Linked DNA regions of Homo sapiens. The protein of the gene in region 2 purifies or fractionates together with the protein of the main gene of each other region. This does not show direct contact. Each region holds a gene or a part of one and is shown on either strand. Other genes may lie near its edges. The genes, in order: CDK19, CYRIB and RAB3IL1.

Region 1 (7,102 bases), on a different chromosome or scaffold from region 2:
ACTCTCATGTTGTGTGTGACAGTTCCTATTTCTTCACACATTTGCTAATATTTGGTAATGTGTTTCTTCTTATTCAGAAAAAACAATGACTTAAACACATACCTTATAGGAAAGCCAATCCTGGAGCTTATCATTAAGAAATATCAATTGGATGAGTGTTCCCAGTGATGTGTGACTGTGCGTGTCCTTGCAGGTATGCCAACAGTAGCCTCATAAAGTACATGGAGAAACACAAGGTCAAGCCTGACAGCAAAGTGTTCCTCTTGGTAGGTGCTTCTCTCCCAGACTAAAATCTGATTCTCAGCACAAATCTCGCCTTCTATTTACTCAGCTATTCCTCCTCTTTAGAAACAAAAGAAATTAGTGGATGCTGGGGTAAAATTAAATATTTTTTTTGTTGAGATGTCACCCTGTCTTTCAGCCTTCACTTTAAATGATTTATCAGCAGAAAATGAACTTTATAAGGGCTTTAATGCTGATGATTTCTGCCAATTTCACATAAAAGTATGTAGTATGCATAATCTGCAGTGAGCTACACCAAATGTATTTTATATTAATCCTGTTACACAGTAATACAAAAGACAAGGTGTTGACTTGTAAATAACCTTTTCATGTGCTGTACATTTCCTGTGTGTCACTCTAGCTTCAGAAACTCCTGACCATGGATCCAACCAAGAGAATTACCTCGGAGCAAGCTCTGCAGGATCCCTATTTTCAGGAGGACCCTTTGCCAACATTAGAGTATGTATCCTGTCTTTTCTGTGTCCTTTGCTCCAGGCTGAGGAGGCTGCATGGTGGTTGAAAGCAAGGGAAGCACTTGCTACTGAAGTATTTAACTTTTTCAATGATACCACCTAAAGACTGCTCAAGAGCAAGCTTCCACATTTTGAAACAGGCAAAGCTGCAGAGAGGGATGAATGAAAACAAGTATTTTAGGAACGACCATTTGTCAGTTTTACAGATGAAAACTAAAGCTGATAACAGATAAGACCTTTACAGACCAATTGGCCAGATCAGAAATTCAGCCAAACCAGTAGGCAACAGAAGTTAATCTGTCTTTCAGAGCATGTCCACTGCACTACAAAACCTCTCTACTCCTTCATCCTTCTTAACCCCAAGTATAGACTTTGTGTTTTCATCTATAAGAGGTGTAGTTTTTCTTGTTAAGGCAAATACAAATTAAGTTATTTTTGGCGCTAATGAAGTTAGTATAGAGAAACTTCTGTGTCCTATATGTCAACTAGCTAGCAGCAGTCAAGATTTGAACACTAGCCACAGATGAAGAGTAGGAAATAAGTGAAGAAAAACAAATTGGAATTTTAAATTAACAAGGTAATGATATTACAGATTTTAGATCATGATATGTTTTTTCTTTTTAATGATTTTTAGTGTATTTGCCGGCTGCCAGATTCCATACCCCAAACGAGAATTCCTTAATGAAGATGATCCTGAAGAAAAAGGTGACAAGGTATAAACTGCACGGTATACTTTCACTTCCAAAGAGCAAGGGAGGCAAAAAGATAGTTTAGGTATCGTTCCATAATTCCTATACATTTAACCACCTTTTCTAATATTTAATTAAATTTGAATGTATCTTATTTTCTGTGGAAGTTTGGGGATTGTAAAGGTACCTTGAAGTTTGAAGTATGACCAGCTCACAGATACCTGAGCTTCCGGTGTGTGTTACAGCCAGTTCTACTCCCGGATTCCCACTTCTTGCTCTTTCTGTTTGTTTGGTGTCACTACCACCCCTTTATGCAGGCTGGCTTTTGCTAGCATCACTCTGTTCTTTCGTCTTAACTGGATATATTGGCTCACTCTCCAGACCGCTCTGCCTTTCCAGAATCACGATTGAAAAGATTTCTTCTAGCTGTTTTAATGAGCTATAAGAAATGTATTTCTAATGTGCCTGTGGCCTTCAGTGAGATGTCTGTGACTGATTTGGAGGATCACTGTGCAGTCTAAATGAACTTCAGGGAAAGAGTCCTGTTTGGGGCTCAGCGCCTTGCCCTTTGGGAACACTGTGTTCCCTGGCTGCTCCATTCTCCAGTCCTCCCCATCACTCTAGTGTCCCACATAGATTGCTCCCCCAGGTTGGTCAGCAGCCACATGTGCATATCAAATAATTAAAGAAAGCTCCTGTTAATTTGGTTTCATACCAAGCTTGCTTTTTTCCCCTTAAAAGAATCAGCAACAGCAGCAGAACCAGCATCAGCAGCCCACAGCCCCTCCACAGCAGGCAGCAGCCCCTCCACAGGCGCCCCCACCACAGCAGAACAGCACCCAGACCAACGGGACCGCAGGTGGGGCTGGGGCCGGGGTCGGGGGCACCGGAGCAGGGTTGCAGCACAGCCAGGACTCCAGCCTGAACCAGGTGCCTCCAAACAAGAAGCCACGGCTAGGGCCTTCAGGCGCAAACTCAGGTGGACCTGTGATGCCCTCGGATTATCAGGTACTCCCTGAATGTCTAATGTTCATATGCTTTATGAAGTGGGGAAAAGATTTATCCTAGATCCTTTTAGAGTTAAGTAACACTTAACTCTTACATTTGACTGTGCAATCCTGTTTCTAGGGCATTCTATGAAGAGGAAGATTTTCATCATATTTCATGTAATTGTAAGATATCTCGTATTCTGACTTGTTTATCCTGACACCCGAGGAGAGGAAGGTAGGGAGGCCAGTGCCCCCATCCTTAAAGAAAATTTCATCATTTTACCCTTATAGCTGCCTTAGCAGTTCTGGTGTATCAGAAAAAGATACGTAGATACGCAGTTGAAAAGGGAAGGGGAGTGGTGTCTTACTTTGGACAAAATTAATTGCATTCTTTAGAAAGATATGCTCTTTCTGGGAGGAAGTAGCTACATAGATAAAGAAGAGAAGGGGGCTAAGACTGAGGCTTTTCTGAAATAACTGTTAAGTCTCATTAGAAATAATTTTGAGACTAGAAAATACTTTTTGTTATTCAGATAAAAAGAGAACACCAATTGCAGTGCTAATTCAGGAAATTAAAGGAGCTAAGTCTAAGGATTGGTATTTGGAGAGAGGTAAAAATACCCATTGTGATAACCATAGGAAATTTTGAAAAAAAAATTTTTTTTCAAGGTAGTAACAAGTTAAGAAACCATCTAGGAAGAAGGGAAAACTTAAGTTTTTTGTTTGTTTGTTTTTTTGTTTGTTTTAAGTTTAGAACCACAGTCCCTCCGGGAACTCTTGCAGATGAGTGCATAGGATAGAGATAATAGAAAACAAAACCTCTGGCAAGGGAACCATAAACTCACTGATAAGGAACTGCAATAAAGAGAAACTTTAACAAGAAAGACATAACAAATAGCTGCATAAACTGCCTTCACATTTTGAATAGCTCAACAAACTAATGTGTTTCCACACAACTACTCTGAAAAACTTCTCTTCAGAATATCCCTGCAAGCAGAAGAGTACATAATACTTCCACTTGGTTCCAATTAAACAAATTTAGGCTTCAGTTTGATCTACTAAAAACAGCTTGCTAGCTGGGTAGTAGCATGAGCATATTTGAATTTTGTTATAAAATCTGTTTCCCCTCCATTATATGAGCAACAAATGCTTACTATATACTGGTTCATCTTTGTGTGTCTGATTGAATTATATTAACCTGTGTTAAAAAATAATAATAATTTGCCTAAACACTTGTTAAAGTTGGTAAGGCAGACTTTATTCAAGGCGGGGCCATGTTAGTGCATAAAGGGACCACTGCAACAGGGGCTGGCAGTTGGGGAGGAAGACTGGACTCAATTCAGACTCCTACATGACAAGTGGAGAGGTATAGCCAAAGAGCAGGGTGGGGATCAGTGGATGGAAAGTTACCAAGAGGAAACATCCAGGATAAAAGGTCTCTGGCTAAACTGACTGCATAGTATTAGGCTGAAGGGAGGCCTGGGTAATAAGCTTTTAAAGGTGGGGGATTTTTGCCAAGCCAACTTAGCAAGATTCTTGCTCTAACAGGATTCTCCAAGGACAGAGGAAAGCCCAAGGTCAGGCCTAGTCAAGCAGAAGACTCACAGAGCTCCCTCCAACACGACCCTGTAAAACTTCCCTCCAGCCTCTTTGCAGACAACACCTCCTCTACTGTGCTGCCCCAGGCAACAACATGTTTTCATACCTTCTGTAATAAACCTGCCTTTCTTTACCCAAAACCATCTTGGTTAAAACCTTGACTGCCTGAGAGCAGCCTGACTGCAGTTTTTGTCAAAGGAAAGAGTCTTTGTCACCCAATTGTAGTCAATTATAGACAGATTACTGTATTTCTTTTTTTCCCCAAATTCAAACATTCTTTGAAATGCTTTTCTATGTCCATATTGTTCTGTTGACTTAAAAATAAACCTTTCATAGCTGAGTCCTGATGTCTGTGGAAAAAAATAATAAACCTTCCAACATATCTATTAAATGAATAGATACAGCTATTTAGTTGGAGAGACTGGCATGAGGGGCAGTCAGGTGTCCCATTACACCGAACTTGCAACTCATACACCATCTAGGGGCCAAGGGAAAAACTTTCCTTTCACTCTCTGAAAGTTCGCTGAAAAATCAACTCACAAAAGGCAGGTTAATTGGAGAAAATGTCATGGGTGTGACTAGCTAGGGCCAGTGTCTCAGGCAGTCAAGGTTTTTACTAAGAGTTCTGGGTAAAGAAAGGCAGATTTATTACAGAATGTATGAAAACATGTTGTTGCAACAGACAGCATAGCAGAGGGAGGGGCTGTCTGCAAAGAGCAGGGGCTGGAAGGAAGTTTTACAGGGTCTTGCGGGAGGGAGCTATGTGCCAAATGAGGTCATTGTGCCCACCAGTTGTTTGTGACTAGCAGTGTCTCAGAACAATTGTTCATTGTTTTTCCCCACCTGGAGCCCCTTCCTCCTTGTTGCTTACTTATCAGGACAGAAAGGCATACAACTTTGATACCAGTGGGCTGAGGGAGGTCCCCAGATGCTGGTGGGACCTCAACCCCACCCTGTGTCCAGGCTCCTAACACCATCGGGAGAAGGAATTAAAGGATGAGTCAAAAATAGCAAAAGTATGGAGATTTATTGCAGAGGGAAAAGTACACAACTCAAGAAAGGGGAGTGTGGGTATACGCAAGAGAGAATCTGGCTGGGGACAGTGGCTCATGCCTGTAATCCCAACACTTTGGGAGGCTGAGGCGGGTGGATCACCTGAGGTCAGGAGTTCAAGACCATCCTGGCCAACATGGCAAAACCTCGTCTCTACTAAAAATATAAAAATTAGCTGGTTGTGGTGGTGCAAGCCTGTAATCCCAACTACTTGGGAGGCTGAGGCAGGATAATTGCTTGAACCTGGGAGGCAGAGGTGCAGTGAGCCGAGATCGCGCCACTGCACTCCAGCCTGGGTGACAGAGTGAGACTCCATCTGAAAAAAAATAAATGAATAGAGAGTCATGCAGTCTGGTTTGGGTTTCTATCTTTATGGGTTTCTTTAACCAAAGGGTGGAATATTCATGAAAATTCCTGGAAAAAGGGGGAGATTTCTTGGAACTGTGGTGCCACCCATTTTTATGCCAAATATGGATGTTCTTGGAACTGTCATGGTGCTGGTGAGTGTGTGATTTAGAATGTTAATGAGCATATAATGATGTCCTAGGTTTTTAAGCAGAAATTCAAAGTGTGTTTCATGTAGTCTTTTTTTTTTTTTTTTTTTTTTTTTTTTTGAGACAGAGTCTCACTGTGTCACCCAGGCTGGAGTGCGGTGACGTGATCTTGGCTCACTACAACCTCCACCTCCTGGGTTCAAGTGATTCTCATGCCTCAGCCTCCCAAGTAGCTGAGACTACAGGCATGTATCACCACTCCCGGCTAATTTGTGTGTGTGTGTGTGTGTGTGTGTGTGTGTGTGTGTGTGTGTATATATATATAAATAATTTTATTATTATTATTATTTTTTTAAGTAAAGACAGGGTTTCGCCATGTTGGTCAGGCTGGTCTCAAACTCCTGACCTCAAGTCATCCACCTTCCTTGGCCTCCTAAAGTGTTGGGACTACAGGCGTGAGCCACTGTGCCCGGCCAGAAATTGTCCATTTTTATGGTTTAGGGTCAACAAAGTGTAGACAGCCATGTAGAAACATGATTGGACAGAAGGGGTATGATCTGATGCTAATAGACTGAGGGGGAAACCCAACATGGCCTGTCTAGGTTCCTGTTGGTCTCTCTAAGCGTGCATTCCTGCCTCTGGGTGTGGGGCAGGACCCCCTCTGGGACAGGAGTCTCATGACCTACAGTCAGACAGGATATGCCAGATCATTTCTTTATGTCCAGTTTTTACACAGAAAGGTAGGGGGAAGTTAGAGTAATATTTTTAGGTTTCACAGCTGGTGTTGGGGAAGTGGGGTTCTGGTTTCTATGGCTTGCCTTAGGGAAGGGGAATTCTAGTTTCTATGGCTGGCTCTGAGGAGAATGGGACTGTGAGACAAGAGGGCACAAAAAGGTCAGAGAAAAACTTTTGCTCCTGAGGCCTTCATTTTGGGGTATTGTTTTCTGTGCCCCAACAGTTCCATTAGTAGAGTTTCAAGGCTTTTGAGCTGCTTCATCAATGTATTGTAAGCAAGTACAATTAGCGCTTTGAAAAGCGGGACATTGGCTTATTTTCTGTCTAAAAAACCCTTTGTCATTAAAAAAGCTATGTTACAGCACATTAGATTCTTACATGTTTACATTATACTTTATGGCAAAATTGCCCCAAATAACGTATGAGTTGAAAGAACATTTTTCATAATAAACTTCAAAATAAAACACGTAATTAAAATTTGGAATTTTTAAAGACTTCTGTAACCAATGTGACTATTCAGTTGTGCAACTTAGGAAGGGGCAAAACTAAGTTTTGTTTTGTTTTTTTTTTTTTGAGATGGAGTCTCCCTCTGTCGCCCAGGCTAGAGTGCAGTGGCGCCAATCTTGACTCACTACAACTTCTGACTCCTGGGTTCAAGCGATTCTCCTGCCTCAGCCTCCCGAGTAGCTGGAACTACAGGGACCCACCACCATGCCTGGCTAATTTTTGTATTTTTAGTAGAGATGGGGTTTCACCATGTTGGCCAGACTGGTCTTGAACTCCTGACC
Region 2 (8,060 bases):
CTGCACAGCCAAGAGATAGTGAAGGTGTGTCTGATAAAATTCATACTTAAAATCTGAATTTTCAGCTATACAACACTTCCTTTACAATGCTCAGTGGTGGACGATTTTGCTGAAGACAGCCAAGTCCCAGACCGCCAAAGCCACATGAATCGTGGTCTCTTCAATTAACGAGATGGCAGTAATGCTGAGCACGGGTGAGGCCACAACCTCCTGGCACCCGCGTCCCTCGGGCGTCCTTCCTGTTCTTCGTGTGCATGGGTCTCTGGATCCTGATATAAGAGCTGTCAGGGACCAGGATTCCACATAGGGAGGAACCACGGGACAACCATTTCAAGGTCAACTGCAGGCCAGTGCGCTGACCTTGAGATGGAAAAAGAATGTACATCCTCAAAGAGCAAAGGGGAACCCATCATTCTTCTGCCCATTCTGTCAAAAGACACGTACTGTTTCCTGCATGGGCCAGGCAGCAGGTCAGGTGCCAGAGGAAGCACAAAGACCACTCAGCGTCTGCAAGAAGAAAAGTGAGCTCTGCAGGCTGAAGACTTAGGCAAGGACCCTCAATCTGCCCCTTCCTGACTGAAGGTCTTGGGCCAAGTCCTGCACTCTCTCTAAGTCTCAGGAAAACGAGAACCCTAGCTCTCCTTTACAGGTAACCCTGGCCACTCCACAGTTCAGTCATTAAAAATGAATCTGGGCCGGGCACAGTGGCTCACACCTGTAATCCCAGCACTTTGGGAGGCTAAGGCAGCGAGGATCCCTTGAGCCCAGGAGTTCGGGCAACATGGAGAGACCCCATCTCTACAAAACATTAAAAAATTAGTTGGGCATGGTGGTGCACACCCGTGGTCCCAGCTACTTGGGAGGCTGAGGTAGGAGGATGGCTTGAGCCTGAGAGGTCAAGGTTGCAGTAAGACATGATCACGCTACTTCTGCACTACTTCAACCTCAGCAATGCGTGAGACCCTGTCAAAACACAAACAAAATGAATCTGCACATGCTCAAACTGCAGCACGCTGCTGCACAGAAGGGTCTGCACTGTCTCTTAAAAATAATAGTAGCACTTACGGGGGTCGGGAGTTGGGGGACCCACATAGCTAAGGATCCTAAGAGAGGCACACAGAAGACTTTGGGAGCTGAGAAAGGAGAAGGGGTGGCTGTCAGAGACAGCAAAATTACTTGAAAATCTCCCAAAGTGAAGGGCAGAAACATATATTGGCCTTTATCTGAAAACCATTTCCAAGTCTCCCTGTGCTGGAACCCACTTCAGCCTCCTGCATCACACACTCTGCCCTTCTCCGTGCTGTGAGCCCAGCAAGGATCTAGAGTGCAAATTCCAATGTGCCTCCTCAGGAAGAAAACTCAGGCCAGCTGACCACTTCTGCATGCCGACCAAGGTAGAAAAGTCACCTCTTCCGGGCTTCCCCCACATTACAGGAACCCCAGGCCTGGGAAACCATCCCAGACGTCAGCCCTGGCTCAGTCTTGGCTGTTGGCCTCAGCCAGTCACCTGGCGGTGGCAATCAAAATGACGCCTTCTTTTTATTTTTCCCCCAGTGCAATCTTCCAAGAATGGGAGAGTCTCAAAGTCAGAGTTTAAGCCCTTTTTCACAAGGGAGTCAGTATTTTCACAAGATGGTCTTCCTCAGAGAGGGGAGGAGTCCATCCAACCCAGATAGCAAAATTGCTCCCTGGAGATCCTGGATGGATGTTACAGGGCAAGGAAGCCAAAATGTGGAAGCACACCGACTCACCTCTCAAAATTCACCACCCACTCGTTCATCTCACAATTATCTATGGGGTGCTTCCCACGTGCTTCAACGCACCCTTTCTAGGTGCTGGGGATGCAGAAATTCAAGGTGACTGGCAATGACACTTTCTATCACTGCGCCCCCTGCAGGCCAGGAAATCTACGCTCGTTTTCTCAAGGCCCCACTCGCAGCAGCCCATTTCACAGACGGGACCCTAAGACTCAGAGAGGGTAAGCGACTTGCCCAAGGTCACACAGCTAGTAAGCGGCAGGGCCAGGAATTAAACATAGCTGCAAAGTGCATGTGACACTCCCCCGCAGCCCCAGCTCTATCCCTCCGCACCCCTCCACCTCTTGCAGCAGGGTGGGTAGCAAAGGCACACTCCAAGTAGCTCCAGCATGGTAAGACCTCGATTCCTCCTTCGTTCCACTCCTGACACAGGACACACGTTTCAAAGGACACACAGGTTTTTCCCAACCCCAGTGTGTGTGTACACAGCCCCAGGAAAGCCCTGCAGGCTGCAAGGGCACCCACCCGCTAACACTGAACTTCCATTTAAAAAGAAAGATAATGAAAAGATAAAAGGCGAAGAGGAAGTGCTCTTTAAACACAGGCGGGTGGCTACCCCAGGAGGAAGTCTTGAGGCCAGTGGAGATTTTGTTCACCCCCTCTAGTTCCTCAAATCCAATGCGACTGGTCTTCCAAGCCCCTGATGGGAGGTGGCCGGGGGCCAGCGCTGCTCCCGGGGTCAGTCCCCGCACCGACACCCGGCTCGCAGGAAGGGTCTGCCAGGGACCAGCCACCCCGACCCGAGCGCCCCCTGCCTCGAGGCGCACAAGGCGCCGGCTCCGCAGCTGGGTGGACCCGGGCGGCGGCCCCGCTGCGCGCTCCCCTCGCGTCCGCCCGCCGCCCCCCGCGCACTCGAGGCGCCTCCCCCGGGACCCCCGCGCCCGCCGGCCCGGACGCCCCCACCACGGCGGCGCCCCCTGTCCACCCGCCGCAGCGCCCGGCCCGGCGGCCCGGATGGTACCTCCGCCTCTCCCCGCACCCATCACGCGCGCGCCCCGCACCCCGCGCCCTCTCCGGGGGCAAATCGGATCCAGGGGCGCGCGCGCGGGCCGGCCGGGCGGCGGCGCCTTCAGAGCCCCGGCACGTACCTGGCGGCCCGGGCGGGCGAGGGGAGCGCGGCGCGGGAGCGCAGGAGCCTCGGAGCCTCCGGTGCCGCCGCCGCCGCCGTTTCCGGGTTGGCGGGGCTCACGTCACCGCCACAGGTTTGCGAGCTGCCCCCGCCGCGGCGGCAGCAGCAGCAGCAGCAGCAGCCCGGGCGAGTGCCAGGCGAGAAATAACTATAAAAGGAAGAGGCGCGGCGAGGAGGAAGAGGAAGCGCTGTTTACCTTCGAGAAGCCGAGCCGCCGGCGCTCGCACAAAAGGAGGACGCTCGCCTCGCGACGCGCCTCCCCCCGCGCCCAGTCCCCGCCGCATCGCGGGGCCCCGGCGTCAGCGCGCGCCGCGCCCCGGGACCGCCCCGCGCCGGCCCCCACCCCAGAACCCCGCGCCCGCCTGGCCCGTGTCCTCCCGAGCCGGGGCGCCACGGGCCCGGGACGGTGGTGACCTTGGGCAAGTCACCGCGGGGCGCGCTGCGATTGGGGGTCATCGCCCTCATTGTGCGAGGAGGAAACCCGGCTCCGAGAGGCGCAAGAGTGACCCCCAAGGTCACTGCCTGTCAGGCAGGGCTTGGGCTCGAACCCCGGTCTCCAGACCTTCAGGCCGGCCAGGTTCCCATCCCTGGGTCGCTTCCCCCTCACCTGGACTTCAGGAATGGTGACAGCCCCTGCCTGGCTCACCTCGCAGCGGGGTCAGTGAGAGGAATGCTGTCCACGCACCCATTCAGCCCTCCCGCAGATACTTACTGGGCCTACTAAGTGCCCGGGCTGTTCTAGGCCCTGGAGCTGCAGCTGCGAACCAAAACAAAATCCCTGCCCGGGAGGGGCAGCGGGGACAGGCCGTAAATATCTGATGGGTCCTATGGTGCTAAGTGCTGTGCCAGAGGAAAAATAAAGCGGGGTGAGGGGACGGTGCGGGCTGTCGGTGCTACCCTAAGCGGTTCTCCAAGGACTTTAAATTTAGTACAGAAATTCCCACATAAAAAGCTCCTCGCCATAATTCCAGTTTCAGGTATTATGGGAGACCTCATCTTTCCCCTGATCTAGAATGGAAAATACTGTGTTTTTCTCCCTGTAACAGGACATGCCTAGGAAACTGATACTCTCCTTCCCTCTGCCTTGCTCCCCTGGCCCAGAAGCCCATCCTATCATTATCTTGACATTCAACCAGAAATTTCTCGGGAAGATAGACAACATTCTCTCAAGTATCTTTCTGCTGTCCTCTAGCAGGGTATCAAAAGGGTTACATCAAAGGCTTCCATTGTCTTTCCACCTCCACCTCCAGCTATAGGGGGGTTGGAGTGTGCTCACATCATACTCAGTGCTGAGTTACCTGATTAGGAGCCAGTTGTTCCATTTCTTTTCTTTTTTCTTTCTTTTTTTTTTTTTTGTCTAAGACAGGATTTTGCTCTGTTTCCCAGGCTAGGTAGCGCAGTGATGCGATAGCTCACTGCAGCCTCAAATTCCTGGGCTCAAGCGATCCTCCCACCTCAGCCTCCCGAGTTGCTGGGACCACGGGTATGCACCACCATGCTCAGCTAATTTTTATAGATTTTTGTAGAGGTGGGTCTCCCTGTGTTGCCCTGGCTGGCCTGTTTCTCCTGGGCTCAAGGGATCCTCCCTGCCTCCGCCTCCCAAAGTGTGGGGATTACAGGCATAAACCACCACACCCAGCCCGCCAATTCTTTAACAAAGGTGCCTTGCGCCTTCTCTTGGCCAGGCCCAGTTCTCGGAGCTGGGGACCCTGAGATGGTGCCATTTCAGCAGTACTCCCTGGACTGCTCTCTAAGCTTACCCGAGCGCCAGTGCCTTCATTCCTAAAGGAAGGGAACTAATGTCCACCTTGCTGTGGGGGCTGAGAAGTAGGTGGGGAAACACTGGGTCCTGAACTATGACCTTGAGGAGAAGCAGGAAAAGGGTTTGGAAGCAGGCAGAGCTGAGCCGCTTATAAAATGAGCATTAACAATTCTGAACATTTATAAAGTACTAAGCAGGTGCCAAGTGTGTGCAGGCCCATGAAGCAGGTTTATCATGGCCCAGTGTCATGCATTAAGATACTGCAGCTGGAAGAGAGATGAGATTTGCCCAAGATCACACAGATTAGACAGCGGTGGAGCTGGGTATGTACCTAGATTGTCTGACTCCAGAGCCCAAGCACTTAGCCACTCTCAGCCTCAGTTTGTTCATCTGTGAAATGGAATGGATAATAATGACTTCGTTAGGTTATGGTGAGGGTTAAATGAAATAGCGAATATATAGAACCTAATATGGATAGGACCCAGGAGAAAGCAATCACCATTGTTGTTACTATTATCATAACTGTTACAATTTACCTTTTTTTTTTTTTTTTTTTTTGAGGCAGGGTCTCACTTTGTCACCCAGGCTGGAATGCGGTGGCGCAATTTTGGCTCACTGCAATCTCTGCCTCCCGGGTTCAAGCAATTCTCATGCCTCAGCCTCCCAAGTAGCTGGGATTACAGATGTGCACCACCACGCCTGGCTCATTTTTGTATTTTTAGTAGAGGTGGAGTTTCACCATGTTGGCCAGGCTGGTCTCGAACTCCCAACCTCAGGCGGTCCGCCCACCTCAGCCTCCCAAAAACCGCACCCAGCCTAATTTTTGTATTGTTCTGTGATGACAAGATTTTGCCATGTTGCCCAGGCTGGTCTCAAACTCCTGAACTCAAGCGTTCCACCCGCCTCAGCCTCCCAAAGTGCTAGGATTACAGGCTCAAGCCACTGCGCCTGGCCTACCATAATAATTGTTAAAGGCATGAGGTAAGGAACTTTCAGGCAAGCTTGGGATCTGTAAATAGTTTGATGTGAGCGTAACATGGAATGCAAATTTGGGGGTCCAGGAAGCAGGGAAGAATAGATGAAGGTGAGGGCAGGGCTTGGATGCCTGCTAGCCTGCACTCTACTGAATTCTGAAATATGTGGGATGGAGAGTCTAACTCTGATGTGTGTGTCTCAGAGGAGAAAGTCTCCATTCACTGGATACAGTGAGGCTGAGAGCATGAGCCTAGGCTCACTCTGATCCTGATAGGTTTGACCAATTCAAGCCATTGGGAACCTGGGAATAATACCCGGGGAAACCTCTGGCAATTCTGTAGTGACTGCTCTGTTTCCCCGGGATGTCAACCCTGACAATGGTAGGCAGAAGTCCAGCATCCTATAGACAGCACTGTCTTTGGAGTTGGGAAAGCCTGCCTGCCATTTTCAGCTGTGCAATTCTGGGCAAGTCATTTAACCTCTGACTTCTTGAATGTTCTTATCTGTAAAGTGGGAATAATAACATTATCTTCTGTTGTTGAGAGGACTATGTAAGAAAATGAGTTTTTCATGCTTTATAACTGGAAAGCAGCATGCACATTTTACTTTCAACATTAGAATCTGGTGCTTTCATTGGCCAAGCAAAGAATCTTGAAAAACCAAGATTTTAAAAATTAAAAATTAAAAAAGAAGGCTGTGCTTTCATAGCACATGTGGTCCACACAGCTTTCAAGCAAAAAAAAAAAAATAGCTATTTCCTTCATATATGCAAAAGTCCCTCAAAAATATTCCTCCAAAATGCATTTCCCTGCTGAGCATTTGCAAGAGTGCTATTATGTACAAAAGGTAACAGAAGGTAAAGTTGGGAGACACAGAGACTCAGTTTTTGTCCTGCTGTTAGTATTTTGCAATTAAGCCCACTCCACATCCCATCGTGATAAAAGCAAACTCAGCGGCATTAGTCTCCTCACACCTGCTTTTCAGTCTCCTCACACCTCTGGCCATTGGGAACCGAAAGGGAAAACTACGCCCAAGCTCACTAAGGAATGCCGTCCTGGCACTGGAGCACAGCCCTCGGAAGATGCTTCAGAGGCTCAGCTAGCCCCTTTAGGCTGGGAATCCCACTCAGTGAGGTGGAATGACTTCCCGGGACACACAGAGCTAACCCTCAAGTTGGAACAGGGTCTTTACCGGGAGATGCAGAGCCTCGGGCTTCAAAGGCTGATAAGTGATTGTTTCCTGGGGCTGGGAGGAGGGGAGAATGGGGAGTAACTGCTTAATGGATATAGGGCTTCTTTTGGGGGTGACAAAAATATTTTGGAATTAAATCAAGTGTGGTAGTTGCACATTAGTGAATGTACCACATGCCACCCAATTGTTCACTTTAAAATGGTTAGCTATGTGTCATATGAATTTCACCTGAATTTTAGGGAAAGAATAACTTGACGGATAAAAAGCTAGTGAGCAGAACCTTAAGTATATTTTCAGTATTTCAGTATATCCACAATAGCATTGCAGAAATGAACCAATATGTCAGAATCATAGCAACAGAGTGCGGTAACTAAGAGCAGCCGGTTTATGTAACTAATCCTTTCACAATGGAAAGTAAAAGGATTTAGGATTGAATAATGTAGTTTGAATATTATTGTTATTATTATAACTTAATTGGTGCTTTTTGTGTTTTTTGAGGGTTTTTTGTTTGTTTGTTTGTTTTTCGGTAGAGACGGGGTTCCAATATGTTGCCCAGGCTAGTCTCGAACTCCTGACCTCAAGCAATCCTCCTGCCTCAGACTCCTAAAGTGGGATTACAGGCATGAGCCACCACAGCCCGCTCATTAATTTGTGTTTCTGAAGAAGAGTGTAACATAGTGGAAAAACCAGGCTCAATTTAGAGAGAGCTGAATTCAACTCCTGCCTTTAGTTCCTATTGGCTGCAGGGGCTTGGAAAACTACTGAGCCTCTCTACGCCTTGCGTTTCCTCATCAGGCAAAATGGGGGCGGAGATGCTGCGTCACCGTCATCTCAGGACTGTGGGGGGGACTGGGTGGGACAGCATAGGTGACATTCACCCGGAAGGTGCCTCATCGGTGACAGCTATTGTTATTGTTGTCATTGTCGCCATCGTTGTTGTTACTATACGGTGTAGAAAATCTTTCAGAACATGGACCCATGGGGAAAACCGGGTACATCTTAGTCCATTAGGGCTTCTGCGACAAAGCACCACAGACTGCATGGCTTATAAACGACAGAAGTTTCCTTCTTGCAGTTCTGGAGTCTGGAAGTCCAAGATCGGGGTGCCGGCATGGTCAGATTCTGGTGGGGGTCCTCTTCCCAGCTGCAGATTTCTGCCTCCTCGCTGCATCCTCAAGTAGTGGAA
Region 3 (7,102 bases), on a different chromosome or scaffold from region 2:
CACAGCCTGGGTGGGTCCTCTTCTTTGGGACTCCTGAGCATGGGCCCTGAACTCCAAACCCAGAGGCAGCTCCAGTCTGACTTTAGGTGCCCCTCCAAACTGGGTTGTCCCCCTTCCGATTCCCCACAGTTTCACACATTCATAGTTTTGGGTGCCAAGCCTGCTCCAAGGTGACGAGGTGAGGACAGCGTCTTGAGTACTTCTGTATCTAACATGGTGCTGGACACTTGGGACTTGGTCAGCAGAAGCCAGCGTTCAAGTTTCTGCATGACACTGTTCCAGCCCCCTGGTCTCAGTTTCCCCAGAGACGGGGCTCATCATACCTATGGCTAGAGAGGGCCAGGCATTGATGGATGGCCCAGGAATGAGATGAGACCACTCCAACCTCCCAGGGGTTGGGGAGCATGTTTTTGCGGCAGGCAGGGCTGTAGGGGCCATCAACTGGCTGTGTGATCCTGAGCAAGTCACTTCACTGCCCTGGGCCTTGGCTATTCTAAGGGCATGGATCTGTGGGCTCCTGCCTGTAAGGCCCAAGTCACAGGGGACTAGAGGCCGTGAGACAAGAGTCTGAAGTATGGCCCGAGGGCTCCAGGTCAGGCACACAGGCCTCTTCATTGGGAAGGGGTTGTATAACCCTCACTGTTGCTGCTCCCTGGAAGCCCTCCGTGATCTAACTGCCTACTCTACCCCTCAACAGGTGGAGATCTTTCCTGCTGTTCCTTAATCAGGACATGGGTGTTGGGGGCAGACATCCTCATTAGAATCCTGCTTGTCCTAGACCCTCCGAGCTCTGCACATGATTTATGCCCAATAGGTCTTTGGAAATGAGGTAGCGGGAGGGAGATGCAAATCAAAATAGGATATGGTAAGAAGGGGGCTGCCTGGTCGTGCAGATTGGATGGATCATGGCTGGTGGGGTGCCTGGCACATAATGGGTGCTCAGTATACACACTAGCTATTGGAGGTCTTCGGTGTCAATTCTTGGACTGAATGGGCAGGGTCGCCACAGGCGCATTTGAGGATGTACTGCGTGCCCAGCCCTGTAGAAGAGTAGTGAGATGCGCCCCCTCCTAGGCCCTGTGCTGGCTCCCATGGAGAGACAGGGCTGGATTCCCCCGCCAGGGGTGGGCTGGACTGGCCTGGTGGCCTGGGGCTATGGCCGGCGGAGGCGTGGCCTGACTCACCTGCTTTAGGTGTTCTGATCTGCTTCCCATCCCCAGCTGTTCCTGACCTTCTCCCCCACTCCTCCTCCATGGTCTCTACTAGGACATGCTGTTGTGCCCTTCTCCCTACTCTGGCTCCCCTTCCCCTGTGGCCCAGGCCCACCTTGGTTCCCACCTGTCCCTTTGTCCCCTCCTTGACTTGAGCTCATTGGTTCCTGGCCCAATTCAGTGAGACTCATGACGATCTCTTTCATCCCCGGGTCCCAGACACTCTTCGGCTCTGGTGTCCAACACTCTCGTCCTTTCTGGCTCTCAAGCCCTTGTCCTCCCTGACAGCCCCTCATCCAGGCTCAGGCTGCAGCTGCTCCCCGAAACCAGTGCCACTCGACAGCGTCACCCCATCCTGCCTATTCCCCCTCAGCTGCCTACGGGACGTGCCACTTCCCAGATGCCTCAGCCACCCACTTTCCTGTCCCTGAAAGACCCCCTCCCAGTTCCTCACTCCCAGCATGGGTACCGCTGTTCTCAGCTTTCACCTTTTCCTTAGTTTTGAATTATCTTAATTATTGTTATTGCTTTTTCCTGCCCCCCCATCCAGCCCCTGTTCCTCCCACAATTCCCCCTTCCCATCTTTGTTTCTGTGTGTCCCCTCTGCTGTCCCCTCTTAGCCCAGGTCCTGCCTGGCTGTACAGCATTCTTGGGTGGCACCTCCAGTACTTGGGCGCTGTCTCAGACTTCCTCAAACCCCATCTGCCTCTTGCCTCACTTCTCCAAAACCGCCATTCATCCCCTTTCCTCTGGGTGACAGGCCACGTGATACGCTATGCCTGTACTCTGCATTCAGTTCCCATCCTGCCACTTCCTTGCTGTGCATTCTGGCCAGGTCACCATCCCTCTCTGAACCTCAGGGGCCTCATCTGGAAACCAGGTGGAGGAGCGCATCTCCCTGCAATTGTCCCGAGCTTCCAGGCCATGACACCTGTGGAGTGGTGGGCTGGCGTGGATGTGGCCTAGCGCTTGGGAACCTGACATGCTTGTGGGTTTGGGGCTGAAGACTTGGCCGCTCTCTAGGGGAGCCAAGCTTTGCTGGGCTTGCAGGCTGGCCTGAGAGCTGGCCCACCAACCCTTTCCTGGGACTCCCTTGGTCCCTGGATGTTAATCACATGGCTGTGAGCCTCCGTCCCCTCAGTGTCACCGCAAAGGCTGAGCGTGAATCTGAACAGGCCCCTGTGCCAAGGCACCGCCCCGGGGAGCCAGGCCCTGGGTCGGGGTTTCTGCAGCCTCCCTAGAGGCCTGGGCCCTGGCAGCCCGCTGAGTGGTCCCAGTGTGCCCTCCCAGCCGTCTCCTTCGTCCAGTTTCAGAACCACCCTTGCTGTCCCCTCCCCTGCTTATTGAATGAATCCATTGTGCCCATGACCAACAGGGGTCTTTAGTTCCAGGAGGTAACTGGACAGGGTCATCTTGGGCACTGGTTGAGGAATAGGCTGGTCTGGCCACTGGCCAGGCCCTGCTGGCTTGGGGACACTGAGAGACCGAGGGCCACGGAGTCTAGGTCTCCTTCTTATTTTGTGGGTCGGGGCAAGAGCCCTGCTGGCCCTCCTAGGGTGGGCCTGGTGGGGTGAGGATTGTGGTTACTGCATTTTCTTTTGGTTGTGTGTTTCCTGGGGAAGTGACCCGTGGGGCCTTTCCTGTATGAACTGCCTGGGCCTCTCGGCAGTGGGAGCTGGCTTTGGGATGGGGGATGTTGGCTGGGTGCCCCATCTACCTCTGACCTTGACTCCTACCCTCTGAACAGGCTCCTTTCCAGAGGCATCTGTGGCTCATCTCAGATGCTGGGCTCTGTTTCTGCAGGGAACGGGGACTGAGGAGGTTTGTACAGAGAGCGGTGGACCCGGACTGAGGAGGGTAGGGACGCTGGGCAGCAGAACATTAAGTGGTCCCTGCTTGCCCCACGACTGAGTTCACCACTGACTTGGGTGTTCACAGCCAGGTTTTCAGGCCTCTGGTCTGGGAGGCTAAAGTGTGTGTGAGATTGGAGATTCTGGCTTGGGCTGGACCCGAGGAGCCCAGGGTCCCTTCTTTGAAATTTCTGAGTCTCAGGAGTTGGCCTTGCAGCCTGGAAATGAGGAGGAAGAGGGTCTGCAGATTCTGGCTACCCTCCAAGGGCAGGTCAGGCCCTTCTTCCCTCCTGCTCCTGCCACCTTTGGCGTTGGGGAGTTGGTGGCTACTGGGTGGTCCCACTGTTCCCATGTTCCCACACTTCTTGCCATTGGGATTTGGCCTTGGGCTCTTCTACTGGGGGTGATGGGAAGGATGTCACAGACTCTGTCACAGGCCTCCTGGACCACTGTTTCCTCTGGCTACAAAATTGGGCCCTGTCCCCACTCTGCCCCACAAGGCAAAAATGAGAGCCTGTTGGGAAAATGGTGAGGTCAGCCAGCCACACCTCCAGCCTATGTGCTTGGGACCAGCAGGAGAGAGAGTTAGTCTTTCACTGTGGCCAGAGGCCCAGACCACACTGGTGGATGAAGCTCGGCCCCCATGGGAGGGCCGGCAGCCTGGTTCTCCTCGGTCAGGGCATAGGCAATTGCAAGAGTCCTCTGTCCTGTCCTGTGCTGTCACCTCTTGCCCTTGGCCTGCAGTGAGCAGCCCCCAGCCCAGCCTGAGTGACTATGGCCATCCTGTCCTACCTGAGGACTTGGGCCATGATGATTAAGGTGGGGACACATATCCATCACTCCATCAACAGTGTCTGTGCCAGACAGGGCTCTCAATACCCTTGTTCGGGGAAGTCTTCTTGGCAAGGGTCCACAGGCCTCCAGTTTAAGCTGTGGGACCCAGAGCCCAGGCAGGCTTCGTGAGTGTCTCAGCCAAACATGGCTGTGGATTGAACATGATTCACCCAGCACCAGGTCAGGACTGCTCTTAGAGCTCTTGATTCTTAGAGCACCTCCTGCAGGATTTCAGCTCCTATCCCTCAGGTGCAGAAGCAGGTTCAGAAAATTTCAGTAGCATTCTCAGGGGCTCATGTGTACCCCAGGTCAGAGGCTGACATGGACCCCAGGCTTGCCCCATCTGGCCTGTTCTCTCTGCCACAGCTCCCCCTGCCCAGGCCCTGCCTTCTGGAAAGGGGGTTTCTGGGCCTGCGCAGAGTCTGAGAAGCCAGTTCGGGCCAGAATTGGGTCAGATTTCCCTACTGCAGCCAAAGAGGAGCCTCCGAGTCTCCCTGGGCCCAGCAGCGCTTTATCTTGAAGCAGATGCGCCGATTCCAACACTCACACTCCGCACCCACCTGCCCTTCCCCTGCAGCGGGGAAGCTTTGGGCCTGGGCTTGAAGACCTGGCCACCTGTCCCAGCACTGTCACTGACCAGCTGCGTGACCCCTGACAAGTCCCTTCACTCTGTGAGCCTCCGTCCCCTCATCTGTAGAATGGGACAATACCACGAGTGCTGTTGAGAGAGTTTTATGTTTGTTTGTTTGTTTTGAGACAGAGTTTCGCTCTGTCACCCAGGCTGGAGTGCAGTGGCACAATCTTGGCCCGGCTAATTTTTGTATTTTTAGCAGAGATGGGGTTTCACCATGTTGACCAGGCTGGTCTCGAACTCTTGACCTCAGGTGATCCACCTGCCTCAGCCTCCCAAAGTGCTGGGATTACAGGCGTGAGCCACTGCACCCAGCTGCTGTTGAGAGAATTTTAAAGGAGACAGCGTGGTCAGAGACCTGTGGAAGAGTCTGGCAGAGTGAGTCCCCAGGGCACAGACCCCAGCCCAGGGCTCCGCCATAGCTCTCAGGCTGCGGGGAACCCTTGCCAACAAGACTTCCCCAAACAGGAGTATTAGGAGAGAGCCCTGTCTGGCATAGACACTGTTGATGGAGTGATGGATATGTGTCCCCACCTTAATCCTCAAGACCCACATCCCTGCCAGGCAGGACCCAGCTTGAGGAGCCTTGAGGCCACACTCTGGGCCGGTTCCAGAGCAGAGGGCAGGTGGGGCTGGGCAGCTGGACCGGGCTGTGTGAAGGGACTCATTGCTGGAAGTGGGCTCCTTGCAGGAGTCTCTGGGGGCCCATTTTCTGTGTGTTAACCAAGGGAGAAACTGAGGCTCAGGGGCTGCTTGGTGACCTTCCCAAGGTCCTGAGGACAGGGAGGGGAGACTGGTCCACAGACTTGCCTCTCACTCCTCCCTCTGCCTCAGCCGTCCTGAGTCCCACTTTCTCCTTGGCCTTGCCTTCCCCCTCTGGTGCAGCCTCCCTGAGCCCCTCCCCCCAACTTCCCTCACTGATATCAGTGGCCCGCCCAGCCCCCCATCCCCAGCCCTGGTTGCTGCGGCTCAGAAGCTGCTGGCTCAGGAGCCTCCAGCTTTTGCTGAGTGAGCGAGTCCAGAGGTGCTGTCTTGGCACAAAACACCGCTGGCCGGGCCCTCGCCCTCCCTTCCCTCTCCAGGGTCCACTTTGGAGTGGAGAGTGTGGGTGGGGGCGGAATGAGGCCTCACACCACCTCCAGGGTCTTCAGCTTCAGGGAAGGGAGGGTCCTGAGGCCCAGAGAAGGGGGTGTTTGCCTGAGGTCACAAGGCAGGCCAGGGGAGAGCTGGGACTGCTCCCCACCAAGTCCAGGGGGACAGGAAGTGGGTCTGTCTTGTCCAAGCTGTTTGCAGAATCTTCCTGCCTCAGCCCTGCCTGCCCTGGCCTCATCCTTCCTCTCTGGTCCACCCTGAAAGGGGCAGAATTCGCATTAACTGTATCAGTGAAGGCAGCTCCTGCTTGAGTGCATCCGAGGTGTCAAGGTTTTACCCACACCTCCTCTGATCATTCAGTGACCTTTGAGGTAGGGCCATTGGAATAGGCTTCACTTAATACAAGTGGGACTCAACCCTGATGCATTTACAGTCACCTGTTAGACAAAGACGCTGACCACCTACTGTGTGCTGAGCACCTACTGCATGTGCCAAACACAGCCCTCAGCCCTGGGCTGGAAGGGGTGGTTGACAAAGAGTAATAAGCCTCTTGCCCCAAGAGACTTTGTGCTTGGACATTTGCCCTTGTAACAACACTGATGATAGCTGGTAGGGTCCCAGTTTTCAGATGGAAAGGCTGAGGCTCAAGTGGCAGGCACATTGCCCCGGGGCGGTTTCTGGACTCAGCTCTCCAGGCCTCAGGACCCCACCCTGAACCTGCTGATACCCTTGTTTGTCTCCAGCCCACCCCAGCCAGACCAGGGCCTCCCGCCGCCCCTTGCAGCTGTCCCGGTCCCCTGGAAGAGCACGGACCCCTGCCAAGGCCACAGGGAGTCCCCAGGAGCCCTGGTGGAGACCTCTGCAGGGGAGGAGGCCCAAGGCCAGGAGGGCCCCGCAGCCGCCCAGCTGGACGTGTTGCGCCTGCGCAGCTCTTCCATGGAGATCCGAGAGAAGGGCTCCGAGTTCCTGAAGGAGGAGCTGCACAGAGCGCAGAAGGTGGGTGCCTGCAGTAGGCTGGGGGGTCTTCGGTGGGGAGAAGTCAGGTTGGGAGAGCTGTGGGCTCTCATCAGGTGCCCAGAGATGTGCCCAAGGGAGAGGGATGTGCCCTCACCGAGGCCAGCTGCTGGCCAGGCCTGTACTGGGCGCACCGATGGTCACCCGTCTTGACTGCAAACGTGCCCTGAGCTCTGATGAACTGGCAGGCAGGGCTTCAGCTTCATGCTGTGGCTAAACGGAAAAAGCATCACAAACTGTCAGGCACCAGAGGAAATAAACTCTGAGCCCCACATAAAATGACGAGGGGATGGAACCTGGTCCGGTGGGCCTGGTCCCTCCCGTGCCAGGCCTGGGGATGCTGAGGTGCTCAAGTGCCTGCCTCTTTTCCTCCAGGAGCTGAAGCTAAAGGACGAGGAATGTGAGCGGCTGTCCAAGGTGCGGGAGCAGCTAGAACAGGAGCTGGAAGAGCTGACGGCCAGCCTGTTTGA

What was found.
Region 1: the proteins of CYRIB (region 2) and CDK19 purify together in Homo sapiens (affinity purification with mass spectrometry; 3 studies listed by BioGRID and IntAct, with this or other methods). This does not show direct contact.
Region 3: the proteins of CYRIB (region 2) and RAB3IL1 purify together in Homo sapiens (affinity purification with mass spectrometry; 2 studies listed by BioGRID and IntAct, with this or other methods). This does not show direct contact.

The regions. Positions count from the first base shown.
Region 1 is NC_000006.12:110,616,454-110,623,555, reverse strand, and holds part of CDK19 (cyclin-dependent kinase 19), read left to right. Parts: intron 1-77; coding exon of another isoform or gene 78-168; exon of another isoform or gene 169-187; intron 188-193; coding exon 194-266; intron 267-643; coding exon 644-741; intron 742-1,389; coding exon 1,390-1,468; intron 1,469-2,185; coding exon 2,186-2,452; intron 2,453-7,102.
Region 2 is NC_000008.11:130,013,465-130,021,524, forward strand, and holds the start of CYRIB (CYFIP-related Rac1 interactor B), read right to left. Parts: upstream 3,097-8,060; 5' UTR 2,906-3,096; intron 1-2,905. UniProt on the Homo sapiens protein: Negatively regulates RAC1 signaling and RAC1-driven cytoskeletal remodeling. Regulates chemotaxis, cell migration and epithelial polarization by controlling the polarity, plasticity, duration and extent of protrusions.
Region 3 is NC_000011.10:61,907,566-61,914,667, reverse strand, and holds part of RAB3IL1 (guanine nucleotide exchange factor for Rab-3A), read left to right. Parts: intron 1-6,361; coding exon 6,362-6,614; intron 6,615-7,007; coding exon 7,008-7,102. UniProt on the Homo sapiens protein: Guanine nucleotide exchange factor (GEF) which may activate RAB3A, a GTPase that regulates synaptic vesicle exocytosis. Promotes the exchange of GDP to GTP, converting inactive GDP-bound Rab proteins into their active GTP-bound form.